Linked DNA regions of Homo sapiens: region 2 is linked to region 1. Evidence: fine-mapped expression QTL. A gene starts in region 1. The other region holds a variant in brackets. All regions are shown on one strand. Distances are between the middles of the regions.

What was found. PIP is the estimated chance that this variant, and not a neighbour inherited with it, causes the effect.
Region 2: its variant is fine-mapped to the expression of UROS in whole blood (TOPMed, PIP above 0.99).

Annotation. Positions count from the first base shown.
Region 1 is chr10:125,817,721-125,833,548 of GRCh38, forward strand. It overlaps UROS (uroporphyrinogen III synthase), which reads right to left and starts at 5,538. Exons shown (of 10, transcript NM_000375.3): 1 at 5,309-5,538. It overlaps BCCIP (BRCA2 and CDKN1A interacting protein), which reads left to right and starts at 5,826. Exons shown (of 7, transcript NM_078468.3): 1 at 5,826-6,002; 2 at 8,871-8,945; 3 at 9,838-9,918; 4 at 12,842-12,931; 5 at 13,700-13,887. The coding sequence starts at 5,838. It overlaps MIR4484 (microRNA 4484), which reads left to right and starts at 2,020; the gene lies at 2,020-2,102. RefSeq lists silencers at 5,185-5,614, 6,371-6,590 and enhancers at 5,466-6,151, 5,695-5,894.
Region 2 is chr10:125,793,210-125,807,132 of GRCh38, forward strand. UROS (uroporphyrinogen III synthase) reads right to left here. Exons shown (of 10, transcript NM_000375.3): 7 at 4,856-4,936; 8 at 2,894-2,979; 9 at 1,671-1,769. Among named protein-coding and RNA genes, the nearest start is that of MIR4484, 20 kb to the right of the region's middle. The variant G/A (reference allele first, on the strand shown) is at 3,516.

The DNA.
Region 1 (15,828 bases):
TACAGAGGATGACACTCATCCAAAGTCTCAGAATTGCTACGTGGCAGAGCTGGGATTCACACCCAACCAGTCTGGCTCCAAAGTCTGTGCTTTTAACCCCCTACGCTATATTATGCCTCACATACACTTTGAATACGAAAATGTTTGGGAAAAATAGAGGTATAAAAATATAAAGTATCACTGTAGTACAAAGTGCTTAGTTTAGTTATGCAAACACCCCAAAGAAAAATCAATCTACCCATTGTAAACAGAGAAAATATTTCTCCTGGGTTCTAATCTGTGGTTCTCTTAGGTAATAAAACCGATGCTGGCATGAAGTTTAGGCTTCTGGATAATAAAGAGCTCCCTGAGATGTGTTGCAAATAAAAATCCAACTACTACCCTTATCCTTTATCTGACGTCACTGAAAGCATTTGTCTTCTTTTTTAATCCTGTATACAATCATTCCCAAACACTGAAAGCATTTCTAATATAAAATTAGGCCAGGACAGTGGTTCATGCCTGGTAATCTCAGCACTTTGGCAGGCTGAGGCAGGAGGATTGCTTGAGAGCAGGAGTCCAAGATCAGCCTGGACAACATAGCGAGACCCCATTTCTACAAAAATTTTAAAAGTTGTTAACAAGGAGCCGGGCATAGTGGCGCATCCCTGTAGTCCTAACTACGCAGGAGGCTGAGGTGGGAGAATCACTTGAGCCCAGGAGTTCAAGGTTGCTGTGGGCTATAATCGTGCCACTGCACTCCAGCCTGGGTGACAGAGAAGGATCTTGTCTAAATAATAATAATAATAATAATAATATAAAATTAAAAGGTTCTGTTGTTGATGATTCTTTGCTGTGCTAGAGTCACATATTATCAGGCTGATTGGGAAAGAAATCAATTGAGAAGCGTGCACAGATAGGTTAACATGTCGCCACCTTGGGCTTTAGGAAGAGGCTTGGTGGAGTAGAGGGTGTTTGCACAGGAGGGCCAGTGTCTGGGTTCTGGTCTAGGCTGCTCTTGCCTCAGTCTCAGTTTCAGATTCCTGTACATTGGAAAGGGGCTGTGAGCCTCTCCATTGTTGGCTTTTTTGATGGACTTTCTTTCCTGTAGTAGATGCTCATTATTTGCTCACCTTGTGGGAAAACAACAATTTCAATTTTACCCAGCATCTTTGAAACAGAAAGAATGATTAATTTTCCTTAAAGTAAAATGGAGCACTTGTCCTTCAAGTTGCCTGCTTAGGTCTCTCCCAAGCATACTCTACTTTCTTTCCTGTTCTAAAGTTTTTTGTTGTTGTTTTTTGAGATGCAGTCCTGCTCTGTCGCCCAGGCTGGAGTGCAGTGGTGCAATCTCAACTCACTGCAACCTCCGCCTCCCGGGTTCAAGCGATTCTCCTGCCTCAGCCTCCTGAGTAGCTGGGACTACAGGCATGCGCCACCATGCCCAGCTAATTTTTGTATTTTAGTAGAGATGGGGTTTCAGCATGTTGGCCAGGATGGTCTCCATCTCTTAACCTCGTGATCCGGCTGCCTTGGCTTCCCAAAGTGTTGAGATTACAGGTGTGAGCCACTGCACCCGGCCTAAAGTTTTTTAAAATAAACTTCCACTCCTGCTCTGAAGCTTGCCTCGGTCACTTTTTCTGCCTTATGCCCCCAGTTGAATTTTCTTCTGAGGAGACAAGATTGAGGTTGCTGCAGGTGTCTACTGATTTGCCACTGGTAACATATTTGGTGCCACGTGACTCAGATGGTAAGGGATCTCTATGCCTCGCTTTCTTCTGCTGGAGGCATCTGATCCCTGTGCAGTTTTTCTTCTCCTCCCTCTCTCCTGCTTACTAAACAACCCCCAGAACAATTCCTCTTGGCCATACGTGACTCTGCTCTCTGCCAGTTGATTTCTTAGCTCACTCTGGTGGGTGGCTCATGGGAGTGGGAAGGACCCTAGGGTCTGCATCAAGCAGATCAGAGGCACTATATGGCCCTCCTTGATAGGAGGCTTGAGACTGGTGAGGCTAGGGCCTAAAAACCGTGCAGTGTCTGGGGTTTCCTCTGCCTTTTTTTCCAATGAAAATAACGAAACCTGTTATTTCCCATTGAGGGGGAAAAAGGCGGGAGAAGCCCCAGCAGAAATGAAGCTGCTCCTGAAGCTTCCAACATGAAACTCACCTCGGCACTGGTAAAAAGAGGGCTCAACCTGTCTCTAGATTTACAGTCTAATGCTTGCTCTGCCATTTTACCCTCATACTTATGTTCATCAATCATTGATGAAAAAGAAAAGAAAAAAAAAATGACTGGAATAAGGGCACCTTACTGGTAAGAAAGAACCAAACCTCAAACCCGTACCTTCTATGTCATGGTGTTCTGGGTATCAGCAATAACAACAGTCACCCTTTTACTGAGCATTTACTCATGTTAATTACTGGGTGTATTAGAGTTCTTCAGAGAAACAGAACCAATGGCATATATTTACATCTAGAAAGGGATTTGTTATAAGGTATTAGCTCATGCAGTTATGGAGGCTGAGAAGTCCCATGATCTGCTGTCTGCAAGCTGGAGACTTGTTAGCAGGAAGGCTGGTGTTGTAGCCTGAAGGCCTGAGAGCCAAGGGTGTAGGTTCCAGCCTGAGTGTGAAGGCCTCAGCACCAGGAGCACCAAGGGCAGAAGATATCCCAGATCAAGCATGCAGGAGGAGACAGGACACATTCTTCCTTCTTTGGCTTTTTGTTCTATTTAGGCCCTCAACAGACTGGATGCTGCCCACCTACTTTGGGGAGGGCAATCCACTTTACTCAGTCTATCCATTCAAATGCTCATCTTTTCTGAAAACAACTTCACAGACACACCAAGAAATAATGTTTAACCAGATATCTGGGCATCCGTGATCCAGTCAAGATGACATGTAAAAGTAACTATCACACTGGGCTAAGCATTTTACATGCAAGACTGCAATCCTCACTTAAACCTGCAAGGTAGGTGGTGTTAGCCTTATTTGCAGGAGGTGAAACCAAGTCCCTGGGAGGTTTGAGTAACTTGTCCCAGGTCACACAGCACAGTAAGTGGGAGAGATGGAATTTGGATCCTGGTCTGAAGCCCATGCTCAGTCTCCTAACCACTTGCTACCATCCCTCTGCCTCATTAAGATAAATTCTGAGCTAAAGATGAACACTGAACGAGTGGTAAGCAATCTACTACCTGCTGAGTTCAGTTCCCTAGGGTCAGTACTGTATTTACTTTCACATTCACTATTCTAATTCACACTTTGACCATGAGCTCAACACTGGGAACTAATCTGAGGGCATAAAGTAAGGCTTTTTCCCCTACTTGTCTTACAAAAGTGATCCTGTTTACTGTGAAAGATTTGCAAACTACAAAAAAGTATAGTTCCTCAAAAAAATAAACATAGAATTACCATATGATCTAGCAATTCCCCTGCTACATATATACCCCAAAGAATTGAAAGCAGGGACTCGAACAGATATTTGATACTCATGTTCATAGCAACATTATTTACAACAGCTAAAATGTAGAAGTAACCAAAATGTTTACCGACAGATAAGTAGATAAACAAAATGTGGTCTATACATGCAATGGAGTATTATTCAGCCTTAACAAGGAAGGAAATCCTAATGCATGCTACAGCATGGGATAAACTTTGAAGACATCATGCTGAATGAAATAGTCACAAAAGGAAGAATATTGTGTTACTCCACTTACATGAGGTTTCTAGAATAGTCAAATTAATAAAGATGGAAAGTAGAAAGGTCATGGAGGGAAAATAAGGGAGTTGTTTAACTACAGTTTCAATTTTGCTAGATGAAAAGAGTTCTGCCAATGGATAGTGGTGGTGATGGTTGCACAATGTGAATGCACTTCATGCCACTGAACTGTATCTTTAAAAATAGTTAAGATGGTAAAATGTATGTTATGTATCTTTTACCACCATAAAAAAAGTATAAAGAAACAGGAAAAAAAATTGGCTATGGTATCTCAGTGCAACTCTGTTGATATGTTCACATGGTCTTTCTGAGTCTTTTTTCTAATCTTAGCCTTTTGATGGGTCTTTTTTGACAGCTTCCTCTCTTCTCCATTACAGGAACATGTTTTTGCAGTTGTGCGACCCAAAGAGGCCATTTCAAGCTGCCCCATCAGATGTGGAGCGCTGATGTGTAAGTATTACTTTAATATCCATGACATGGCTGGGTAGACAAGAGACTCCCAGGAAAGACCGAAATCACAGAACACGATTATGGGCAATCTGGGCTCCTGGGGACCTTTAGGGCACGCCATCTCGTACTGATGAAGGATCACTGATTTATCAGATGTTACCCTGCTTAAACAGAAGCAGCCTATTAGCGCAGCTCACACCATTCCTAGAATCAAACATATCCAACCCACCCCCCTCATTTTACAGAGAAAAATCAATTGAGAACCGCAGATCTTATTCCTAGAAAGCTGATGAACCCTGTTTCTCTCGCAATGGGAAGACCTGGCTGCCCCAGGCTGCATCCCCACCTGCCACAGGGGCTGGCGCTCGCTCTGCAGTTGGCCGCAGTCCCCTCCACTCTTCTCTCCAAATAGGCTCGGGTCTTTAACCTAGACTACCCCACTGGCCCCGAAGCATTTTTTTTTTTTTTTAGATAGGGTCTACCTCTGTCGCCCAGGCTGGAGTGTGGAGTGCGGTGGCGCGATCTCGGCTCACTGCAACCTCCGTCTCCTGGGGGCATGCGATTCTCCTGCCTTAGCCTCCTGAGTAGCTGGGACTACAGGCGCGCACCACCACACCTGGCTAGTTTTTGTATTTTTAGTAGAGATGGGATTTCGCCATGTTGGGCAGGCTGGTCTCGAACTCCTGACCTCAAGTGATCCACCCATCTCGGCCTCCCAAAGTGCTGGGATTACAGGTGTCCGCCACCACGCCCGGCTAATTTTTGTACTTTTAGCAGAGATGAGGTTTTGCCATGTTGGCCAGGCTGGTCTCGAACTCCTGACCTCTGGTGATCCACCCGCTTTGACCTCCCTAAGTGCTGGGATTACAGGCGCGAGACACCGGGCCCGGCCCCCCGCCGAAGCATTTTTAACTGCGGTGCCGGCTTTAAAAAAACTTTTAGGTCAAGAAATGCGCTCCAGAAGCTCGGCGAGGGTAGGCTGGGCAGGCGCCTTCCGTCACCGGCGCAGCGGTAGCGGCAGCGGACATCCCCGCCTGGGCAGGCCCAGGTCCGCGGAAGCCTCGGGGCCCTGGCCCCACTGTGTCACACACCGCCCGGGGCCGGGCCCCTGCACGCCCGCGGGCTTCGGCGTCCGTACCGGTACAGCGGGCGGCGACACCTACCTCGCGGGACCGTGCCCAGCACCCGGCCTGGCACACAGCGGGCACCCGGTCGGGGGGCGGTGTCGCGCAGTCCCAGCGAAAAGGCTGCAGGAGCAATGACAACAGGGGCGGAAGCCCCCTCCCCACGCAGCCCGAGGGGCCGCGGCGGCCACCCGCGCCGGGCCCCAGGACCCCGCACCTCAGACTGGGGTCGCGTGGGTGGCTGCGCGCAGCTAGGCGCTCGCGCATGCGCACCGCCATCCAGGCCACGGAATGAGGCCAGAGGTTAGATGGGTTGAACCACTACGGGAAGGGGAGGGGAAGCTTTGGGAGGAGTGATGGAGGGTGGAAAGCGGAAGAAAAAAGCAAGATGGGACCGCAAGCTGGACGTGACTGTAAGGGGTCATGGCTGCGGAATCCAGCAGGGGCATTGGGGTTGACGTGCACTCAGCGCCGAGCTTCTTCGTAGTTCCTCACCCCCTTGGCTACTATGGGCTGGTCCGGAAGGTCAGGCAAGGGGAAGCTGCGCAGGCGCAGTGTGAGCGGCAACATGGCGTCCAGGTCTAAGCGGCGTGCCGTGGAAAGTGGGGTTCCGCAGCCGCCGGATCCCCCAGTCCAGCGCGACGAGGAAGAGGAAAAAGAAGTCGAAAATGAGGATGAAGACGATGATGACAGTGACAAGGAAAAGGATGAAGAGGACGAGGTCATTGACGAGGTGAGAAGGACACGCTCCCCTAGTTGGTTTATACCTGAGAAAAACTTTTTGGCAAGCCCAGGCTGTGTAAAAATAGTGTAGGGTCTTCCCTGACCCTGAGGGTCTGTGAGGAGAAACTGGAGATAAGTTCTTTCTCAGGTTTCTCCTCGGTCTTTAACACACTGCAGCCATAGTAGTTATTTTTTAAAGGTCTAGTCCGGTCCAGTTAATCTCCCAACCCGCGTCCTCCCCGAAAAAGCCCGCCACAACAGGTGTGTTCTTCTCGTCCTCTTTAGTTCTCAGGCTGAAGCCTCAGATCCTGAATCGGCCACCCCGGGCTCGCAGAGGGGGCCCTCTCCCCTCGGGGCAGCAGCTGTCCTCCTCTTCACTCTGCGGGCGGCACTCACTTGGGCCCTCAGTTTCTTGAAGGCTCTTGCCGCGTTCTACCGTAGAAGCCTTTTCAAATGCTCTTCTTTATCCTGCAGTTTTCCCTTCCTTCTTCAGATCTCAGCTAGGCTGTATTTTCTGGCTCCTGGGGCAGCTGACCAAGTCGTGGGTAAATCTTTGGTTTCATAGTCTCATAGAACTGTGTTCCTTTCTTCAGACTAGGTCCTACCGTAGTGCCTGGCAATATAGGTACTTATTATTTGTTTAGTAAACAATTAGGACTGAATGATCCTTCAGCCTACTGAATGTTTAAATAGATACCTCAGCCTTAACTTGTCCAAAGCAGAATTTGTATAATAATTCATGCCCCTCTCTTAATCGTCACCATTTCTATAAATGGCCCCTAAAGTCACCAGCTGCTCTAACCCAAAACCTGGGGCTTAACTTTAATTCCTCCCTTTCCTCATCCTATATCCAGCCCATCAGTAAATCCTGTTATCCAGACATTTCTCAGCACTAATTCTGAGACCATCGTAGTCCACACCTCTATCATCTCTTGCCTGGACTACTATTTAATGTAACAGCTTTTAACCGGCGTTCTTTTCTCCATTTTTGTTCCCCTACAATCAGTCTATACTCCACTTACAGTCAGAGAGATCTTATAGGTCTGATCTCAGGCCTCTGCTTAGATTGCTGCATTGGCTTTCTAGTTCATTTACAAGAAAATCAAGAGTCTTCACAATTGAGGGACGGAAAGGCAGCCTAGATGGCTGGATCAGAATAAGGAAGAGAGAGTGATAGGAAATAAAATCAGAGAGGTAATCATGAGTCATGATGAGCATGGAGGGGAGCATGGAGAGAAGCATGGATGCAGGATTAGAGGTGACACCATGGTGTGGGTATGTGATCAATCTTCCTTCCCTTACAAATTTTACTTTGGCTCTATGCCTTGAATGCCATCTCACCATTTTTCACTTAGAACTTTGACTGGCTCTTTTATTACTTTTGGGTTATAGAAATCAATGCTGCTTGTGTTAACATGGGAAATCTATCACACCACCACAGTCTTAATTCTAAATCACCTGGGAATGAGGGACAGGGCTCTTTTCTACAAACGTGACTGTTCCTGCTGAAGCCATGTGGAGATGAGCCCATACCCAGGAAAAGGGTGCTGGACAGATAATCCATTTGCCGCCCATTTCCCTGGTGGTGCCATAATAGTCTGGGACAGAGGTCCGAGATGTCTGTCTAGACAAAGAAAAAAACACTAGATGAGCATTATTTACAGAATGTATTTATATCTAAGGAATAAGTTTAAGTCCTGAATAATGACAGTTTGTTATTTGGTTTAGTTTGATCCTGTTTGGAACACTCCCACCCGACCCCTTGTGTTTTGCTGCTCACATAATCTGGCTAAGTTAGCATTTGAAGTCTGCAAAGCTGGACTTAAAGAGTTCAAATTGGAGCTGGAATTGCTCTAAGCAATTCCAGGGCCTTGCAATTTTACAATTAAGGAAGACTTAAATATATACATAGTCAGGGTGGCAAGGTAAAAGGAGGTCTGATTTCCTCTGCGATGTTCTTCAGCTAAGACCTAAATTCTGAAACCGTTAAAACCTGAAGTGCCTTTAAATATATTATTTCATCAGAGCCCCAGGTTCATTGTGTCACTTATCAAGGTCTGATTTAGGGTCCTCAAGGACTAATCTTGTTAGTGTTTAAAAGCAACTAGGTTTTGTTTTTGGCATTTTAGTTCCATCTTCTAGATTCTGTTGTCTTGCAGATAGAGATCAGGGAGCCCAGCTACACATTCATTCTTCTAGTCCCTTGTACTCATTGTATTTCCTTCTGCCTTAGGGCCTTAGTTTGTGCTGTTCCCTGTACCAGGAACTCTCTTTGCTGTTTCTCGGTTTCTTGCTCAAATGTCACTTCAAGGAAGGCTTTCCTGACTGACTTCTTATTTTTTAAGTTGTTACAACATTGTGTACCTTTGTTTTATAGCACTTACATTTATTTCTATGAATATTTCCTTAATGCCTATATTCCTTCCTAAATCGTAAGCTGCACGAGAGCAGGATCATTTGTGTCTGCCTTACTAACCTTTTCATCTTGAGTGCCTGGCACAGTGCTTGGTACCTGGATTGATACTTAATAAATATTTGCTAAGCAAATGTAGTGTAACCTCAAATCCATGGGCTAAGTCAAGCTCTAGGCAATTCCAGGGACTTTTGAAGTGATTTTGATTTTTGCCCACCCTTGTAATCAGGAAAATAATTTATCCTTTGTGGCTGCCGTGTCTGGTTTATTTGAACTGGACTTTCTCAACATTTAAACTAGGTTACTCTGAGTGTTTTGTTTTCTCAGGCTTTTGTGTCACCTGAAGAAATAGTGTGAAGGTGCTTTGTATTCTTCACAGATGGCAATCTTGGCAATGTTTGCCTGTTTTAAAGTCTAGATGTTTGTAGTTTTTCTGGTAACAACTATTTTGTGTGTTATTTACAGGAAGTGAATATTGAATTTGAAGCTTATTCCCTATCAGATAATGATTATGACGGAATTAAGAAATTACTGCAGCAGGTATTGTCTTTTATTTATTATGCATAAATTTCCTCTTCTAAGAAAAATCAGGGGCCGGGTGCAGTGGTTCATGCCTATAATCTCAGCATTTTGGAAGGCCGAGGTGAGAGGATTGCTTGAGCCCAGGAGTTTGAGACCAGCCTGGGCAACATAATGAGAACCTGTCTCTACAAAAAAATTAAAAATTAGCCAACTGTGGTAGCACACACCGTTAGTCCTAACTCCTCAGGAGGCTGAGGCTGGAGGATTACTTGAGTCTAAGAGCTCAAGGCTGCAGCTATGAATGTGCCATTGAGCTCCAGTCTGGGCAACAGAGTGAGCCTCTGTCTCTAAAAAAAAAGAAAATTCAGGTCATTCAATACAGGCTCTCCCAAGTTCATCTTTTTAGAATTTCCATTTCTATCCTCTCCACCTTGCCTGGAAGGAAGAATTATTTCCTTTCATCTGCTAATTAGAGTTATTTTGTTTTTTTTTTTAATTCACAATTCTTATGTAACAGTCATATAACTGTGCTGTTTGGTGCTATAAAATTGATGCTTGCTGCTTCTCCTTATTCTTTTACTCATATAATATGACTTTGGTTCTTTAGCCTTTATAGCTCTACCGTCTTTTTCACCAAATTCTTTGGCCTTAAGTTTATCCTCTCTCGTTTCTCCCTTTTTTCTCCCCCTCCCCCATTACTTCTATATTACTACTGACTTCTTCTTTTCTGAAATTTCCTAATCTTTAGCTTCTTTGACTCTCCTGGGCTTTTCTTTCCCTCTTGGGGTTGCTTTTCTAGATCATCATCTTAAGTCACAGAAATTTCATTGTTTGTATTTGAATATAGGATTTGAAGTTATTAGAAATCATGCTTTGATCTTAATTTAAAATAATTTTTTCCTCCTTTTAGCTTTTTCTAAAGGCTCCTGTGAACACTGCAGAACTAACAGATCTCTTAATTCAACAGAACCATATTGGGAGTGTGATTAAGGTAAGTAGGATAATTGTGTTTATTCTGATTAAATGAGTTCTTTATTCTGTTCATGCTGGGCCTCACCATGCTTGTAATCCCAGCACTTTGGGAAGCAAAGGTGGGAGGATTGCTTGAGGCCAGGAGTTCAAGACCATCCTGGGCAATATAGCAATACTCTGTCTCTACAAAAAATAACAAAAAATTAGCCGGGCATAGTAGCACATGCCTGTAGTCTTTTTACCCAGGTGGCTGAGGTAGGAGGATCTCTTGAGCCAAGAAGTTGAAGGCCATGGTGAGCTTTGTGCCGCTGCACTCTAGCCGGGCAACACAGCAAGACCCTATATCTGAAAAAAAAAAAAAAAAAAAAAAAAAGTTCTTTATTCTGTTTAGCTCAAATTGGAAGCAGTATTACTGGAGGAATGGAGACTGATCAGAAGTCATTGCAGAAATCCAAGCTTATTAAATGCAGTAGTCCAGGTGGGGGCAATGGAGAGGGAGAGAAGTGGGCTCATTTAGAAAATATTTGGGAGATGAAATATGATGAGGTTTAGTCCCTGATTGGGTCTGAAAGTGAGAGGAAAAGGAGTCAAGGATGACTTCCAGGTTTCTAGCTTGAGCAAACAGGATAACAAACATGGAGGAAGGTCAAATTAGGAGGGGGAATGTGAATTTGGATTTGTACATTTTGAGTTTGAGTTACCTGTGAGATACCGGGTAGCAGGTGGAGCCCTGGAGACTTGGGAGTTGGTCGTAAATGTTACTGAGGTCGTAGAAGTGATTGAGATTGCGCAGGGAGGGAAGGGACAGACACCTTAGTAATACCAAGAATACTTCGATGAGTAATATAAGTGGCAGAGCCAGCAAAGGAGATTAAAAGGGATGACAGGAGAAGTAGAAGAAACAATAGTGCAGTGATGTCATACACAGCAAGAAAGATAACATTTGAAGGAGGAGGGGATGGTCATCTTTATCAGATAGATGTTGTAGAGAGCTCAACAAAATAAGGACTGGTTTAGACCCTGGGTCTGCTGCTTATCATCTGGTGGTTCTTTGGGTTATCTGTTGTTTGTATAACAAACCACCCCATAGCTTAGTGTCGTAAAATAGCAGTAGTCATTTATTTGGCTAATGGATCTACAGTTTGGACAGAGCTCAGTGGGCACAACTCATCTGTGCTCCTGCTCCATCATGTTAGCTGGGGTGGCTTGACTAGGGGCTGGAGGATTCCCTTTCAAGATGGCTCACTCACATGACTGGCAAGTTAGCCCTAGCTGTCTGTCGGGAGCTTAGCTGGGACTCTGGACCAGGGGCCTTAGTTCTTCTCCATGTGGGCCTCGTCACACATTGGTTTGCTTCCAAGAGCAAGCTGCCCAAAAGAAGCAGGCAGAAGTGATATAGTGCCATTTCCACCATTTGCTTAGTCTTTACAGATAGAAATTTCTATCTAGGGGGAGGGCACATTGATCCCACCACTCCATGAGAAAAGTACCTAGGTCACTTTGTCAGAAGAGCATGTCCAAGGAGAGATCCATTGGGGCCATCTGTGAAAGATACAGTCTGCCACAGTACCTTAATCTGTTTCCATTTCTGTCTCTGAAAATGAGGATGGTACTAGCACCGATCTTGTAGAGTGCATGGGTAAACAAAATGAATTGCTGACTGCTTAAAACAGTGTCTGGCAGCTGACATGTGCTACATATGTGTAGCTGTCACTGTTGATGTCTTTTTCCTGTTCCTAGCACCTGTTCCCTAGCCTGTTGTGAAAAACACAACAAACAAAAGCTCCATTCAGTCTAATGTTCCACTCTTAAGTACATCACCTTCAGAGCCAAAATTCTTGAAAAGTAATCTTAAGTCATGGTTTCTACTTCCTGTCCTCCTATTCATTCTTCAGACACTCTTATCTGACTTTTACACCACTAAAATTCGGACACTGAGTGATAGGGTCACCAACATACTTGTTACTAAATACAGTGTACACTTTTCAAGGCTTCTGACAATATTAGTAACTTTATGGCACTCAATGTAAAGAAAATGAGAAATTAAACCTATGGGGCATTCCTTTTATTAGGGCAATGGGAAAAAGCAGACCACCTGCCCTTTCATCAAATAAATGTGATCTCTAGCTGATTCGTGTCTTAGAAGACCTAATGGATATGGAGGAGAAGCAGTTATTTTTATCCTTGAAAGAGGTTATTATCTAATGGCAGGATTCACTCTTTAAATGGATAATCACATCAATAGCTCTGCAGTTGTAACTGTGGCTTCTTGGGATTCTCCAGAGACACTTGAGGTGTCCTGAGGATAGAGACTTCTTGTTCTTAGTAAAGGGACTACCCATAGTGTTCGGTGGAGCCAGTCCCTAGGATCATAGAACAAAGGGCAGGGGGTTCTCTTTTTTCCCCTTCTCTCTTGCTAATGTGATAGGTGTAAGTGGCCCTCAAGCATTGCCTAGCTTCACTAATGGTCAAGACTGACAAGTGTTCTGGAAACTCATGAGTTTTAGATGAAACAATGCTGTGGGCCAGCAGAGAAGCAAGGCTTGGCTCCAGCCTAATTGTGTAGAAAACAAATGAAAATGCTTTATTTCATGAGGTTTATCTCTTCTGGATTTGTATTATATTGAGAATCTGATAAAAGAAAATGACTTAATCTGGTACAAAGAAATTTCAATCTGTTCAGAATCTGAAAAGAGGAACAGAGTCGAGGTAAAGCGAAATGAACAAGGTCACACAGTATTTAAGATACAATGCTTTCCAAGATGATGGTGGTAAAACTGTGACAGTATTTAAAATACAATGCTTTCTAAGATGGCGGTGGTAAAACAAAGTTTTGCTTTTGAAAAGTGAAAAGATAAATGAGGCCTACATCCCAAGACTTGGTTTTATACTCTTGGTATTATACTAAATATAACATTTAAATATTTTTTCTTTTAAAATAGCAAACGGATGTTTCAGAAGACAGCAATGATGATATGGATGAAGATGAGGTTTTTGGTTTCATAAGCCTTTTAAATTTAACTGAAAGAAAGGTTGGTTTCACTGGATGGCATCTGAATGGTTATTTCTTAGGCCAAAACCACTTTTATTTAATGCATGGTGAAAATGTCTTTTATGTTAAACAGTGATATTAACTATAGGGATAAGTGCTCTTGTGAAATCTTATTGTAATCCTTTTTCAATATGAAGGTGGTGGTGTTGGGTCTGTACCCAGTTAAAGTTGTTTACTCCCTGTGGTTTAGGGAATCATCTGGCTTTGCAGTCCTGATGTTGGTACTGATGCAGGAGCTGTTTGTGCTGTCTCTCTGCAGCTGTTATCTTTGCTACTTGTGTAGTGGGGATATTCTCAGGCTTTGCTGCCTCAATGTTGAGGGCATTTACTGACATTTTATTTTGTTTCGATTCATCTCTTTTTATTGATTCTCTGATGAGTTGTAATAAAAAGTAAACCAGCTGCTTACCCACCTCAGAATAAGATGCAGGCTACACTTAGTCTTTAATTTTGAAATAAACTGTCCAGTTACTTCCATCTATCTTTATGAGATGGACTAGAGTTGCCATTCCAGTGTGTCTGAATGTTAATTATGACTCTCTTACCACTCATCATGGGATGGTAAATAACCAGTGTATTTACTTTTGAGAAATGCTTAAGCAGTCAACACTGAAGACATACAAGACGTTAAGGCTATGGCAGGAAACTGCCCTTAGCTGTAAGATGAAAAGTGATAGCTTTTACTCTCAGGTTTTGTCCTCTATGTGATGGCTTGTAATAGGAAACAAGCTTTCTCTTTGCTTTCTAGGGTACCCAGTGTGTTGAACAAATTCAAGAGTTGGTTCTACGCTTCTGTGAGAAGAACTGTGAAAAGAGCATGGTTGAACAGCTGGACAAGTTTTTAAATGACACCACCAAGCCTGTGGGCCTTCTCCTAAGTGAAAGATTCATTAATGTCCCTCCACAGATCGCTCTGCCCATGTACCAGCAGCTTCAGTAAGAGATTCTGGGAAAATATCTTTGAACAGTAATTTTTTTTTCAAATAGATTCCTAAATGTCATTTAAGTAGAATATGTAGATATAGAAAGAGTTCTGTCCTTGGTTTAAGTGGGTTTAGTGTGAGGGGAGTGGAAGAAACATCCTGTGAAGTACATACATTATTAACAACTGGCTTTTTGAAGAGTTTGTGACAATAATCATGAAATTTTAACTTAAGATTTAAGTGATATATAAGTAGATAATTTCATATAGACTTTGCATCCCCATTTGATTGAAGTTTTTCACCTTCACAGATAGCTTTCTGCAACATGAATAAAATAATGAACAATTACAACAATAACAAAACTGGTAAAGTTCCCAAATTCTATTGGTATGTTTCATAACAAATGAAACCATAGTCCTGATACTGTGGCTAGCTTTTCAGGGTTTTTGTTATTCTATTTTTTAATCCAGAAGTTTTAAGTTTACAAAAATATTTCAAATGTAGCTGTGAAATCTAGCAAACTGAGTGTACTAAGAATTGTATTGTCTGTGCTTTGCAACAGAGGACAAAATATAGGCAGATTCTCTTATTTATTTCTATCTAATTTAAATTTTTTTTTTTTTTTGGTAGAGACAGGGTCTTGCTACATTGCCCAGGCTGGTCTTGAACTCCTAGGCTAAAGTGATCTTCCTGCCTCGGCCTCCCAGTGTTGGGATTACAGGTGTCAGTCACAGCACTTGACCTAGACAGGTTCTTTATAGAATATTCTTTCTCAGAGGTCATAGCCCTTGCGTTGTGGTTTTCCTTTAAATAGCTGTAGGAATGCAACTCTACTCTGGAAACCTTTACGTTTGCTGTTTTTTCCTAGGGATTCGATGCTTCTTATCTCCTGCTCCCTGCTCTCTCAGCTGTAGCTCAGATTGTGCTTCTGGTGCCTTAAGTGGTTTTTGTTTTTTTTTGGTTTTCTTTTTTTCTGATCAGCTGGAGCTCACATTTATTTGGTTTTATAGGAGGGTGATTTGCTTTCTCCTAGTCCTGTTAAAGCTGAAGTGAGCCAAGCGCAGTGGTGCACGCCTGTAGTCGCAGCTACTCAGGAGGCTGAGGCAGGGGGAATGCTTGAGGCCAGGAGTTCCAGGCTGCAATATACTATGATTGTGCCTGTGAATAGCCACTGCACGCCAGCCTGGGCAAAATTACAAGACCCTATCTTTTTTTTTTTCTTTTTTTTTTTTTGAAAAGGCCAGGTGTGGTGGCTGACACTTGTAATTCCAACACTTTGGGAGGCCGAAGCTGGCAGATCACTTGAGGCTAGGAGTTTGAGACCAGCCTGGCCAACATGGCGAAACCCCAATTCTACTAAAAATACACCCACAAAAAATTAGCCGGGTATGGTGGTGCAGACCTGTAATCCCAGCTACTCAGGAGGCTTAGGCACGAAAATCGTGTGAACCTGGCAGGCAGAGGTTGCAGTGAGCCGAGATTGTGCCATTGTACTCTACAGCCTGGGCAACAGAGTGAGATTTTGTCTCCAAACGAAAAAAAGAAAAAAAAAAAAAAGGAAAGCTGAAGAGGACGGTTGTTCTGAGTTTCTTCTTTTGTTCAAGGGCATCCAGATGCACAAGGCTATGTTTAATTTTCAGAAAGAAGAAACATTAAGGCTTTGTTGCGATTCCATTGCTAGAATTTAGGTTGTGTGTTTATGCAGTTTCTGCAGTATGTCAGAAATTAGTTCCAGACTCTAGCAATTAGAGACTGTGGTAGTAGTCACAGGCTGTAGTGACATTGGTTGTGGCTGTATACCTTTGTGTGTTTCAGTTAAATGTTCATTGCTTTAAAAAATTCAAAAATTCAGATTCGTATATATTTTTAACTTATGCACAGGCAGAGCAGTGATACATTGAGTGAATTTGAGACTCATCTGATCTGTTAGTTGCTATATATCCACAAATCAGCA
Region 2 (13,923 bases), 25 kb before region 1:
TTTAAATATGCTCACTTTGAAAGAAGATAGAGTATAAATCTTTTGTTCTTCCTCTAGGCAAACACTAAGAAGCTTGGGGAAAACTGTGTTAGGCTTATACCACCAGGCATCTCACAGCATTGTGTGACTTGGGGGTGGGTGGGTGGGGTGGAGGTGGGGACTCCTCCTACAGGCCCAGGGGAGAGGCAGCAGGGCACAGAGGGACAAGAACCAGAGCAGGACCAGCACCGTGACCCATCCTGACCTGCAATATGACGTAAGCGCTGGTCATATGGACCAGTTGCCATGCTAAGCACTTTATGGGTCCTATCTCTTTAATTTTTCTTTTTCTTTCTTTTTTTCTTTTATGGGGCAGGTACGGAGTTTCACTCTTGTCACCCAGGCTGGAGTGCCGTGGCGCGATCTCGGCTCACTGCAACCTCAGTCTCCAGGGTTCAAGCGATTCTCCTGTCTCAGCCTCCCATGTAGCTGGGATTATAGGCGCATGCCACCATGCCCAGCTAATTTTTATATTTTTAGTAAAGACGGGGTTTTCATCATATTGGACAGGCTGGTCTGGAACACCTGACCTCAGGTGATCCGCCTGAGGCCTCCCAAAGTGCTGGGATTCCAGGTGGGAGCCACAGCGCCCGGCCTCTCTCTAATCTTTCTAACCACAAGATTCAGATATTGTTTTTCTTCCTCGGTGACCTGTGTGAGTCCTGGGCCTTCTAGGAACTCAAAACATGACTTTGGCAAGTTGTTTCACCTCTCTAGCCCTCAGTGTCCTCACCTGTAATGAGGAACACTGACCTCTTTTTCTGGATACCCACCACTGGACTGGTGTGAGAATTGTATCAGTTACTGCCCAGAAGTGCATCAACTGCTCAGCAGCTCCTGAGACCATGGCAAGGCATCACCATGGCTGACAATGTGGAATCAGTCTTCCCAGGTTCAACTGCAGCTCTTCCTTCTCAGCAGTGTGACCTACAGACAGGCCATATGATGTCTCTGAGCCCCGTGCTCCATCTTTAAAACTGGGAGAGCGGTGCATACTCCCCACATGAGATGCACCTGTGAGAAGGCAGGTGAAGCCTTTTGCTCTTCCTGACTGCAGTGAGTGGCAGTGTCTGTCCTTGGGCTCTGGGTCACATCCTGCACCCTCTCCTCAGTCCCTCTGGAGCCAGTTCAAGGGTGTTTCTATTACAGACACAAGAGTTGTGGTTATTTGTAGACTCATAATAAATACAGTCCCTAGTAAGTGAGAATGTAAACCCTTTAAAAGATATGAAAAAGGTGACTGCTTTTAGAATAGACAATAATGGCAAACATAAGATGGGGGAAAGGAAGGAAAGGATGTTAACACCTGTACCAAGCCCTGAGCTAATTCAGGACTTTACTCAAATTCCCTCATGTAATCCTGAGACTCATCCTAAGCAGGGAAGACCATACACATGTCTATGAAAGCCACAGAGAGACAATTATCCCCATGCTGCAAGTGAGGAAACGGGCTGGGAGAAGGTGAGCAATCTGTGCAACAGCCCAGCAGGAGGTAGAGCTGCCCTTCCAATTCTAAGGCACCTGCTAGGCCAGGGGTGTCTCACTTGACATTGAAGCCCTAGGATAATTCATAAAGATTAAAAAAAAAAAAAAGAATCTGAAAAAGACCAAAAGCTCATTGAATAACTTACCTTAATTTGATCGATATTGTCACCAGATAACTCCTGAATGTGCTTGAGACTGTATGTGAGGCCAGAGGGACTAAAAAATGTGATGCTGGCTGGAACCCCCTGTGGGGAACAGAAAACAAGATCAGTCCTTGCCATGAGACTGAGGAGAGACAACATTCCTCCGGCTTCATCCGCATCAAGACCTCAAGCCACAGGCCACCAAGGCGGTTTTAGCACAGGAGTGGTTCCCGGCTGATGCTGGCATCCTCTGCTCCAGTGAGGCAGGATTCTGGTAGGGAACTGTTGGAAAGAGCAGGCTGCCATCAGAAAGCTGGTGCTGCCCCAGGTCTGTGTCTGCCTGGCCAGAGGACATGGGCATCCCGGAGCTCATGTGCCCAGCAGCCTAGACAATGCCTCTAGCTCCTGTGGTCATACGGCACTGATCACATGAGGCAGTGGTGTGAGGCAGTGCTGGCTCCCTGTCAATGCTCCCTCCCTCTGGAAGCAGAGCAAGCAGACAAGCCTGCCTGGCCTTTTTGCATTTGGTTTGTCCTATCAGGCCCTCCCAATACCAGGCAAGACATTCAGAAGCTTGCCCTGGGAGAGGAAAGGGAGGTGTTTTACTGCATATAAATGCTGAAGACATCAAGGAACTCAAGCAAGAGCTATCCATTCTCCTGCCTGAGTCCTCCAACAGTCCCCACGGACTCCCAAATTCAATCCAGACTCCTTGGTGGCCACTGTCAGCTCTTCCCACTATGGGCTCAGCCTCCCTCTCCAGTGTCTGCCCCTCCAGCTCCACCAGCATCCCCGTATGATGAATAGCAATGATAACATCAAGGCCACTATTTACCTCAGGGTTGTATGTATCTTCGATGCTGTACAAAAAGCTTTGCGTAAATTATCTCCTTTAACCCCTATAAAAACTTACCACTTCCTCAAAGTCACCACATTAATCTCTCCAAAGAGGGAGATTTCATAGACCACCTACTACAAGCACCTCTTACCGAAATCACTGATTTCAAACCAGCTTGCAATAGACATTTCATGAAACAACCACAAAATTGTTTCCATTCCTAATTCTAGAATCCCAGACCAACTATGTGACAGGAAAAGGCATGCAGGTGACAGCTGGGGACAGTGAAACCACATATAGAACCAACATCTATCAGCTCGTGCCCTTCACCCTCTGCTTCCCCACCTGGGCACCCACCCTGCCAGAACCGCCCCCAAACGCCACGTACCTGCTGGGAATAGTAGCTGTTCAGGTTCCCTTGGATTCCTGGGTGTGCAACTGTCTGATACACAGTTATGCTTTCCATGGCAATCCCTGGGCACAATCAAAAGCAGGAAAGACTTTACCGCACTGGGCACACAATGGGGCCTCCACCACTTCACAGCACAGTTGGTGAAACCTCCCAATACAGCACCACCCTCCTGGAACGAGCTGCTTGGAAGCTGAGAGGCCAGACTCAGCAGAGAGGCCTTGAACAGTCCTCTGCAGCCTGCTAAACGCTGTGGAGTGGTCCGGTGGAAGAGGAGGCTGAGACGGCAGAAAAAGAACAAAGGCCCAGAAACCAAAGCCTTCATTTGTACCCAGAATGCCTTTTGTTCCCAGGCTTATGTAGGTTTGTCCACACAAGGCCGTCCCTAGTCACTCCATGGATCCCACACAGACTGGTTGCATGACACCAGCAAGTGTAGGAAGGGCAGCTCTTGGGAGAGGCCTGGAGTCCAGATCCCCGGCTGCACTCCAGCTGTGCCTCCACATGGCCACGCGTCCCCTCTCTGGGCCTCAGTGTGTCCACTTGTACAAGAACTGATTAAGCCGTGGACTTTCCCACATTCCTCCCTGTGCCATTCAGC[G/A]ACTCTGAATATTCCCAGGGGTTTTCAGGGCTGGTGATGAGGCGCTAGGCACTGAAGGGACTCACGCAATTTCAGTCAGATATTGACTTATGAGGGGCAGCCAGATGGTAGGTGAAAAGTAGTGAAAACTCAGGCTTCTGAAAATAAAATGGGAAACTCTCTCAGAAGAAATGATAACTTCAGCATAAAACAGCAACCTATTGCCATTTCATATCCCTGAAAACTAAAGAAATAAACTGAAGTATCAAACCTCTGATTTATATATTATTTCTTTAAGGGTAACTGAGACCAAGCTTTCTCTTATTTTATCCTGGTATTTTCTTGTTCCCGAAAAGCTAATGATTTTGCTGATCTTATTACCTAATGTCCTCTGCCTTTATTCCTGGTAGCTTTAGAAGACAGATGATATGGGTAGAAGGGATACGATCTAGCTCCATTTTAATACGGGGGGAAAGTTACAAGGTCTAAGGTCATCCTGGGTCACACTGCTCATGTGGACTATTAGAGCTTCAAAACCCTGGGAGAGACAGTAACAGTCATAGTTCCATGGAGAGCTTGCCTTTGGAGAACAAGGTGTCATGCTACATGATCTCTGAACACCTCTATGAGGCAGGTACCATGGTTATGTACAGATAACCATATTTCACAGATAAGGATACTGATGCACAGAGAGATTACATCACTTACCTTCATTCACATAGCTAATAAACAGCAAGAGGGAGAATTCAAATCTGTTTTTATCTCATCCGAAAGCTGGTACTCCAAACCACTGATAGACTTTGCTCCCAGACTAACTATGTGACAGCAAAAGGTGCGCAGGTGACAGCTAAGACATCTGCATCGAGGACGGCAGCATGCTTCAGAGGCAAGAACTGGTTTCTAGGTGCTGACAGTCTTGGGAGCCACGGCAGGTGGAGCTGGAGGGGCAGGTGGAGCTTGTGTGGCTCGGCTGGAGGGTGCTGCATGCTATTATAAGATCGGCTACATTTGTAGACTTTCTTCTACATGTGGAACCAATTCTATGGTTTGTCACCTCAGTTATCTGCCCAGGGGCCACCTCCACATCTCGATCTCCTGTCCTCTTGGTGAAGGACTGGAGACACACTGTGTGCTCCTAGCTTGAGCTAACAAGCTGGGAAGAGTGGATCCAAAGAAAGGAAAGTGCAGACTGCACGTCCACTCTTCCCATGAGCATGGTCTCTGTGTCTCCTGGCCTGGCTTATCCAACCCAGCCCTGCTCTCCCTTGTGTGCTCTCTGCAGGGCCACCCACTTCTATCACTGCAAAGGCTCCTGGTGGATCCCAAAGTGGTAAGGGATGCAGTCAAAGCATTCTACTCGCCTTTGTCCTTGAGCGCTTTTGGCAGGATTTCTCTTTTGAGGTTTCCACAGGGAAATAGAAGAGGCAGTGCTGAGGACTCCCCTGTGAATAAATAACCAGGCTTTGTGAAAACTCAGGGCCAGTGCCTGTGCACAGGGGAATGGGGAGGGGCAGCTTTGGGAAGGGGGAAGCAGCCCTGGGCTCCAGGCCTGGCTCTGCTTCTAGGACTCAGTTTCAGCATCTGTAAACAGGAAGAGCACCTGCTACCTTGCCGAACTTGAAGGGTTGTTATATGAAGATCATAAGAGGTAATGTGTGTGGAGGTGCTCAGAAAATGAACATCCACACAAACAAGTTAGCCACATTCTTTTAACTCCTTCTGATCCTGAAGTGACTCCCTAGCCTGCAGTCACTATTTAGAAGGCAGACTTTGCACCTTAACTAAGTCAGGAAGGTGAAGATCAGGCCTGGTGCTGACTGGCACTGGGGCAAACATTTTCTACCTTTAAAGAGGCTCCAGATGAGCCAGGGCTCATGCTCAGGAGGCAGCCGGTAACCGGCAGCCAGGAGTGGCTCTGCAGCCACCCCCAACAAAGACAAGCTCACTGCCCACTCCTCTTCTAGCCACACCAACAGCCACTAGGCCAAGTGCCAAAAGGCGAATGCACAGGCCTTAGAGAGAGAAGCCTGCTAAGAACGGCCTGCCTCTCCTTTCACCACAACCTCTGCTCCCAGCATCTCCACTCTGGGAAGACTTAAGGGCATTTTCAGCCCTTAACTCTTTGCAGAATAGTGAGGACAGCATAGGATTTGAATGCCAATTTGCAACAATACTGTCCAAAAAAGCTGATAAGTTGTCAAATGCCAGAATCTTCCCCAAATGTGAAAACACAGCATTTTAGTAGAACCAGCCATTACCCCCCACATCCATCCGTAAGACATAAGAAATTTTAATGGGCGTTATTCATACACATTGTATATTTTCTCACATCCTTATGATCTCTCTGATCACATCTTCTCTGGTGACTACAACGAGAGGAAGGAGCAAAACAACCCCTTTCCATCCAGTACCACCTCTAGCAAGCAGCAGCCAAACAACAGGAATAACTGCAGGCCACTTAATTTCAAGTGTATAAAGGCTACATACTGGTGAATGTTTTCTTTATTTAAACTGCTCTGTAAATATCTGTACCAACATAAAATAAAATAATGAATTGGGAGATTGTTAAATTCGTTAATAGATGCCTGCTGATTTCTCTCTTCCAGTGCGAGGAAATGTTTTCATGCTCTGCATCCCTAGAGACATATTTTCAAAGCCATGTTCAGAGGCAATTTTCTTCCCCGTTTCTGTGTGTCTATGTGTGTGTTGGGGAATGCAGGGTGGAAGATGTTAGGGGCCAAAGCTCTTCCTGGGGATCCAGTAAGAGAACTACAGTCCAGTTTTTCAGCAAGCCCAGCCCCACAGGTGTGCGAGGGGCCTTGGAAAGAGTCAGGAATCTTCCCTTGGCAGCACCTCTTGTGAGGGTCCAGTGGAGTCCTGAGCTGCTCATTCTTATCTCTGACTCACAAGGCTGGGCCGAAGGGGTACGCGGCTCCCTGAGGGCAGCTGCTTGTCTCTATCTCTCCACCACCTGTGCCTTGCAGAGAGCTTGGCTCTGCAGGCACACAGGGCCCACAAATGTCCAACCAGCTCAGCTGACTTCACTGAAAAGGCACCACCCTGTCAGCAGAAAGGAGAAAATTGAAAATGTCCTGGCTGAGTCCTCCTTTGCTGGTGAGGAGAGATCTACAACTACATGTCCTGAAAACTAGCCCACTTCAAAAAGCCAAAGACAAAGGAGTTATTCCCTTTTGGAATATGCTTAATGCCTGGGGATTTATCTTCAGCCCCAACAGGCCAATGGGATGGTTAAGGCTGACACAGAGATAGTGAACTGTGGAGCTCAAAGGCTCTGCTCTCCGTTCGTTTAACAGGAAGAAGGCCTGGAATTCTGGGCTGTCCGGGCTGATGATGAGTAATAACACTGAAAATCCTAACACAGTATTATTATTACGCAGCTCAGGAGGGGGCTTGATAAAGTCACTGCAGGCAATTAAGAAAATGATGATACAAGCAGGAGGCAGACAAATGCCTAGGCAGATAGGGAAGGGTCCCCGGTGAGACCTCACCTTCAAGCCCAGAACAGCCTGAAGTCTGAAAGACCAGATTGCTGGTCCCAGATGAAACCAGCGACCCAGGGGCAGAACGTCTGCCCGTTTGTCTGCCCTTTCCCAATTGATTCTTTCCGAATAATGCCTTTTAACCAATCAAATGTTGCCTTTTCCGATACTACCTATGGTTTACCTGGGCATCCTCGTGTGCGTGCTGGGGGAACGGGGCGGAGTCACTAGGATTCGCACCTTACGCAGGGGAGGAGCCTGGCCTCATCAGCTCATGTGTGGTACCCCTGGTATTCAATAATGAGGGAGAAACCTGCTTGGAGAATCCCTCTCTTTGTTGAGAGCTTTTCTTTCTTTCTTTCTTTTTTTTTTTTTTGTGACGGAGTCTCACTCTTTCACCCAGGCTGGAGTGCAGTGGTGCAATCTCAGCTCACTACAACCTCTGCCTCCTGGGCTCATGCAATTCTCCTGCCTCAGCCTCCTGAGTAGCTGGGATTACAGACGCGGCCACCAAGCCCAGGTAATTTTTGTATTTTTAGTAGAGATGGGGTTTCACCATGTTGGCCAGAACTCCTGACCTGGTCTCAAACTCCTGACTTCAGGTGATCCACCTGCCTCGGCCTCCCAAAGTGCTGGGATTACAGGAGTGAGCCACTGCGCCCAGCTGAGGGCTTTCCTTTCACTTAATAAGTTCTGCCCTTCTCACCCTTCAATGTGTCCACATGCCTAATTTTTCCTGGTCATGAGACAAGAACCCAGATTTAGCTGAATTAAGGAGCAAAAAGTCCTGCATCAATGACACTGACTTTTTAAAATGTCATCTTACTGAAGGACGTGCACACATCTGTAGAACAGTAACAACTTCCAAGTTAACAATGACTTCCCCCTCTCGGGCACTGCCATGAGAATCAGTTCGAGCAGACAGTGGGCGCCTGAGTGCTGATAATAAGGATGAGGAGGCTGATCGGAGGAATGGAAGAAAAGCCCAGTAAGTGTGCCAGGCTGCAGAGATTTTCCCAATCCAGGAGGACATTTCAAATAAACTGCAGTGCAATCTTTCTGCCCACACAGTTTCTCTCTCTTTTCAAAAGTTATACTGTATTCTACCTTTTACCATTTAGTGTGTAATTACTTTCCCATTAGAGGAGATATCTGGGAAAGAAGGAGAATCTATCAGAACAATGAGTTATCAGATTAAATGGATTAATAGCTTTAAGCACTTACAATAGTGCCTGTCACAAAGTAGTTAAGTGTTAACTAAAATAAATAGGCATAGCTATGAATTGGCCTGTTTACTACAAGCATTAGAGGTAGATTTTTAGCTTTTAAAATCAGGCATCAAAGTTTACTGAGAAAGAAAAATCATTAATGCCTTGGTAAAGCCAAGGTGAAGGTCCTTATTAGCAGTCAACATGGATTTTTATTTGGATATTCTAATTGCAAATGGAAGATTTATTAGGACCCATAGATATGCTGGTAATAAATTAGAGGAAATGGCAGAAGTTTGCAAAGAATGCAGACCAGTATTCTCCCAGATAAGGTCAGAATATGTTAATATCTATCCAACCAAGCCTTGAGTCAGTTAACTGAAACACCAATGTGATCACTCAGAAGTGACATTGATCTCTTCTGTCTTGTGTTTGCAAAGCAGGGACACCAGCCTGATGGTTCTGGGTCTTCTAATGAACAACGACTCAGAGGTTCACTTCTGTCTCCTTACAAACAAACTGTGGGTACAGCTCAATGTCTTCACTGAAAACAGGCAGGAGCCACCTATTCTATTAAAGAGCTAATTGTCAGCCACCCATAGAAATAATTACTATTCTTTGTAGAACTTAATCCCACAAGCAATGTCAAGATCTACCATTTACATTTATTTCTACATTTTTAAAAGAAGGGCTTTGATACCATTTATGCGGTGATGATGACTCTCTAGAAACAACATTAGAAACAAAAAGCCTGGAGCCAGACAAGACCCATCTGCATCCTGTACCAGGAACCCCTGGAGCGAACCCTCCACACTGATGTGTGGCTCCATGACCTGAGGAGCGATCCCATGGGGCTGGGGCCACATGGCACGGGGCCCAACCAGTGCTCTCTGATCCGGAAAGCTGGAACAACTGTCTGTGGCTTCCCTGCAGCTATTTCAACACCTGGCTGAATAAAAGAGAGTCACTGCCTGTCTAGGCTGCTGTTAAAGAAAATGACCCCCAGCAATCCAGTCTGGAACATTCCACAGAAAGCAACACGTTGGCCATCAGGCCTTTTCCTTTCAGTTGCTTAGCCTCAGATGCTCTTTGAATTGGCCTCCAGAGGGCTTCTCCACACTGGTGCATGGAGAGGCCTCTTCCGAGAACACCATGTGGCACAAGTGGCCAGAGAAGCACAGGGCCAACCGTCTTTACTAGCAGCAAATGGTGAACACTTTCTACCACAGATTACAGTCTCCTGAACTGTATGTTTTTAGCTTGAAAATGTCTCACAGTGCTGGCTCATGAAACATTCTAGAGAAAGCCTAGCAGTATCTCTTTAGGTACAGCCCAGGTAGGGAGGGTAGGTCTGAGATGGCACGAACTCCCAGCGGTACAGACTGAGGCATCTGTGCGAGGCCCTGTGCGCTCCTGGAGATGAGTTGAGGTCAGGAGGTCCCAGCAGCCCCTTTCCCTTGGGGCTCAGGCTGGCCTCACCCTCAGGGGCTTTCCCCACCGCCTTGCCACCAAGGATGCGGCTAAACCCCAGATATTACTCCAATGATTCATCAGCATAAGGGCACGTCCAAACCCACTTTCTTCACTTCAAAAGATTCCTTTGACTTCTTCACCTGAGGGAAGAGAAATGAGCATATTTTGGACTTGGACTAAGTATCTTTTAGAAGCACACAGAGCAAGGGAGACAGGAAGAGCTTTGGAGTCAGCCAGTCCTAGGCTTGAGCCCCAGCCTACCACTATTAGCTCTGTTCCTTATGGACAAGTTTTCCCTCTCTGAGCTCAGTTTCTTCATGAGCAAAAGCAGGTCTAGTAATCGTTCCCATGTCACAGCTCAGTACCACAATATGTCAGACAATTAAAGGCATGCACAAAATGCCAATGTATGTCAGACTCATAACGGGCCCTCAAACTCCCTGATAGCATTTCTGTTATGCCCCCAGAGCCTCCAGGACCCCGTGGAAGCTGCCTGCCAGCAAGCCCTGGAGCACACTGAGCTGTGGGAAGACGGCTCCTTCAAGGCAAGACCTGCCACAGCACCCCAGGCCCTGCTCTTAGACTGCGATGGCTCTGTAGGTTTTAAAGAATGCTCTTTTTACTTAAGGGATAAATTTCAGAGACACTCCTAAAAAGTCCCAGGAACAAGAGAACTGGGTCCTAATCCAGTGACTGCCTTTTGGGCCCAATCCTGGCTGTACCTAGTGATGCCCGCTAAGAGGGAGCAGGCAGTGTTGTGTTCCCGTCTAGGCCTGGGGAGGACCAATCCAGCCTGAGTCTGACCCGCAGGGGCTGATGTAAGGCCCCGTGCCTCAGGGCTCCGGTCAACTCTCAGAGGCTACTCAGTGCTCCCCAGCTTGCCACCCACTGCCCCTGCCATGCTGTACTCTCCAGGAAAACCCTCTCCTTCCACGTCTCTGCTCAGTGGCTCCCTCTGAGTGGGAGGGCTTGGCCATGGCTACTGCCTGAGGGAGGGCCTGCCCTTCTCTGTGGAGAGGAGGCCATGCCTTTTGTACAGACTTTCCTGAAGACCTCTGCCTTCTTTTGGACACCCTGACATGACACTGTGATACAAGAGGAAATATTTCGTTTTCCTCCCTGTTCCAGGCACAGAGCTTCTGAAACTCTTGGAACTTCCCATTAGAGGTGAGAGGAGCATCTTTTGTTATTCATGATAAACCCCTTTTAACCATACTGGAGTTTATGCTAATGAGGTGACTGGTGGTGGCCCCTAGAAAGCTTCAGGATGGGGGCTGAAGGCCACACAGAGGATCACAACCATGTGATCAAAGGGTTGGAGATGGAGCTAGTCACCAGGGGTCAATGATTTAATCAATGGTGCCTACATAATGGAACCTCCATAAAACCCCTCAACTATGAGTTTATAGAGCTTCTGGGTTGGTGAACACATCCATGTGCCAGGAGGGTGGCGCACCCCAACTCCATGGGGGAAGAAGCTCCTGTGTACTCAGGACCCTTCCAGACCTCTTCATCTGGCTGTTTATCTGTGTCCTTGTTATCTCCTTTATAAAAATCAGTACACATAAGTGTTTCCCTGAGTTCTGTGAGCCATTCTAGCAAATTACTGAACCTGAGTAGGGAGTCGTGAGAACTCCTGACTTGTAGCCAACTTGGACAGAGGTCCCTCAGCATCCAATACTTGTATCTAAAGTGGGGGACAGTTTGCTAAGACTGAGCCCTTAAAGCTGTGGGGTCTGGGTTAATTCTGGGTAATGTCAAAATTAAGTTGTAGGACACCCAGCTGTTATCTGGAGCATTGGAGAATTGGTCATTGATATGAGGAAAAACCCCACCTATTTGGTATCCTGAGTGTTTTACAGGTAGAAACAGGTATCTTAATAGCAGGCCCACCATACAAAAACTGTTCATACCTCTTCTGGTCACTTAATCCACCCTGCCTTATCACGGTTACTGATGTATATGTTCCCCACCCTACCCCACCTCCAGCCCCAGCTAGGCTGGGAACTTCCAGAAGACAGGAATGGAGTTAAACTCCTCTTCAGTCCCAACGCCCTGCAAAGGGCCTGGCACACAGGTGCTCCTGGGTAAACATCTGCCGAACCATATTGAACTGACTTGTTCTCCTGTGATGTGGGAAGCAATATGGGGGGTGGGGCAAGAGAGGCGTCAGTCAATGCATTAATACCTGAAAGCCATGTCCGAGCCGATGAACGCACATCCACTGAACTAAGGAGTGCACAGGCTCAGGATTGCCAAGTGGCCGAAACACTCTGGGACTACAGCTTATTCATCTGAGTGGCCAGAAAAGGCCCGTGTAGTTCCTCTAAACCGGAGGCTCCTTAAGCCTCTGCCCACCAGATTCAAACACAGAGTCAAGCACACTTACGTCTTCATCCCTGCAGGAGCCCCAGTCACTGTAAATCAGAGTGGATGGAGGTGCTTGGCCAGCATCTCCTTGAGAGCAGGTCGGCATGGAGCAGATGCCAGTCAGGCCTCTGAATGTGACAGGCCATGGGATGAGCAGTGGCCTTGCTGTGCTGAGTGTGAATTCCAGCCTGCCACTTCATAGCTTGTGACCTTGGACAAGATCTGGGCCTTGGACCCCCAAGAGTCTCTATAGCAGCACAGTCAGAAAGAACTTTTGGTGATGATGGGAATGTTCTGTGTGGTCCAATTTGGTGCCACTGGCCACAGTGACAAGTGAGCTTGTGAAATGTGCCCAGTGTGACTGAAGAACTAAATTTTCAATTGTATTTAATTTCAATTAATTTACATTTACATTTAAATAGCCGTATGTGGCTAGTGGCTACTGTACTGGCCAGCACAGCTTGCAGTGGACACGATTCTGACTTCATGGGGTGATGGTGAAGATTAAATGACATCATACAGGCCACGTGTCTATGTACCCGAGACACGCTGGGCACTCAGTAAATGCTAGTCTTCAACGTTAACACCGAGCATGTAGTGACTCAGGAAAGGTACAACGAAGTTATTTTTAAAAGAAATTAGAAAAGAGAAAAAAGGAGAATTGGAGAACTTGGAAAGGATCCACTGAGCCCAGCAGTATCTCTGCTGTTCCCTGACTGCTCACTGCCGCCCCCAACCCAGACGACTCTGTCAGGGGCCTAATTAAGCTCCAGGGATCCTCAGACCACAGTGTAGAAAAAGACGCAGGACTTTCTCTAGAACAAGCTCCCAGTAACACAAAGAAAAATATAAGCTAGAGAACCTTCAGGCAACAGCAATGACTTACGGCAGGAAGACTTGTAAGTAATGCCTTATAAGACGTTAGTGTACAAGTTTGCACGTCAAGAAAGGCCAACATCACCTTTAGGAGTATTTTTTTTAAATAACATAAATACTTTGTTTTACCAGAAACAAAACCATCTATCACTGTTTCAGAAGCCATAAAGAGACCTATTTAAGGTATACTCTCTCCCTATACCACTCATCCTGATCTCACCACCCAAGGGCCAAGGCATATACCCCTCTCCTGGGACCACCTTAGAGGAAACTCTCAGCTGTCAGCAGTTCATCTGACCCTGGCCTCCCAGCTCAGCAGACACTCAAGCAATTTTAGAAAGGGGTCAGAAAACTCTAGCCTGGGGTCAAAGCCAAGCCCATTGTTTGTTTATTTCCTATGGCTGCTCTCATGCTTCTGTTGCAGAGATTAGTAGTTCTGACAGACCATTTGCCTGCAAAGCCCAAAATATCCTTAACAGATGAAGTTTGCCAGCTCATGATCTCTAGGAAAGCCTGGATTTCCTCCTCTTCAGCAATCTAAGATAAGATAGTTCTACTTCATGCTCTCATGGGGGTGTATGATCTTACACCTACAGCAGAGGAGTCAAATGACAAGGGTGTAAGAGCTTGCGGTTGTACTGGACATTCAGGGAACAGAGAGGAAGGGAGATGCACCTTAGAGGTGGGGCTGCCCTACAAGTAGACGGTCAGCCTTCCCATCCCTCTTGCTCCAAGAATTTTTGCCTATGTATCTTCTGAAGCCTACAATTCCATAATTAGTTTAAGACTAAGTCCCCATTTAAATGCTAACACCCCTAGAACAAGTGCCACTTTAAATCCAAGTCCACAGGCAGCCCAATCATGAGTCAGTTCTTTACCTGGGAGCAAGCTGGGAGAGGGAATTCAGAGACAGAAGTAGCTCCTGAGAAGGGAAAGGACAGTCCTCAGTAAGGGGAGAGTACCCACTCACACCTCCTGCCTCTGCTCTCTTTGGAATCCCTC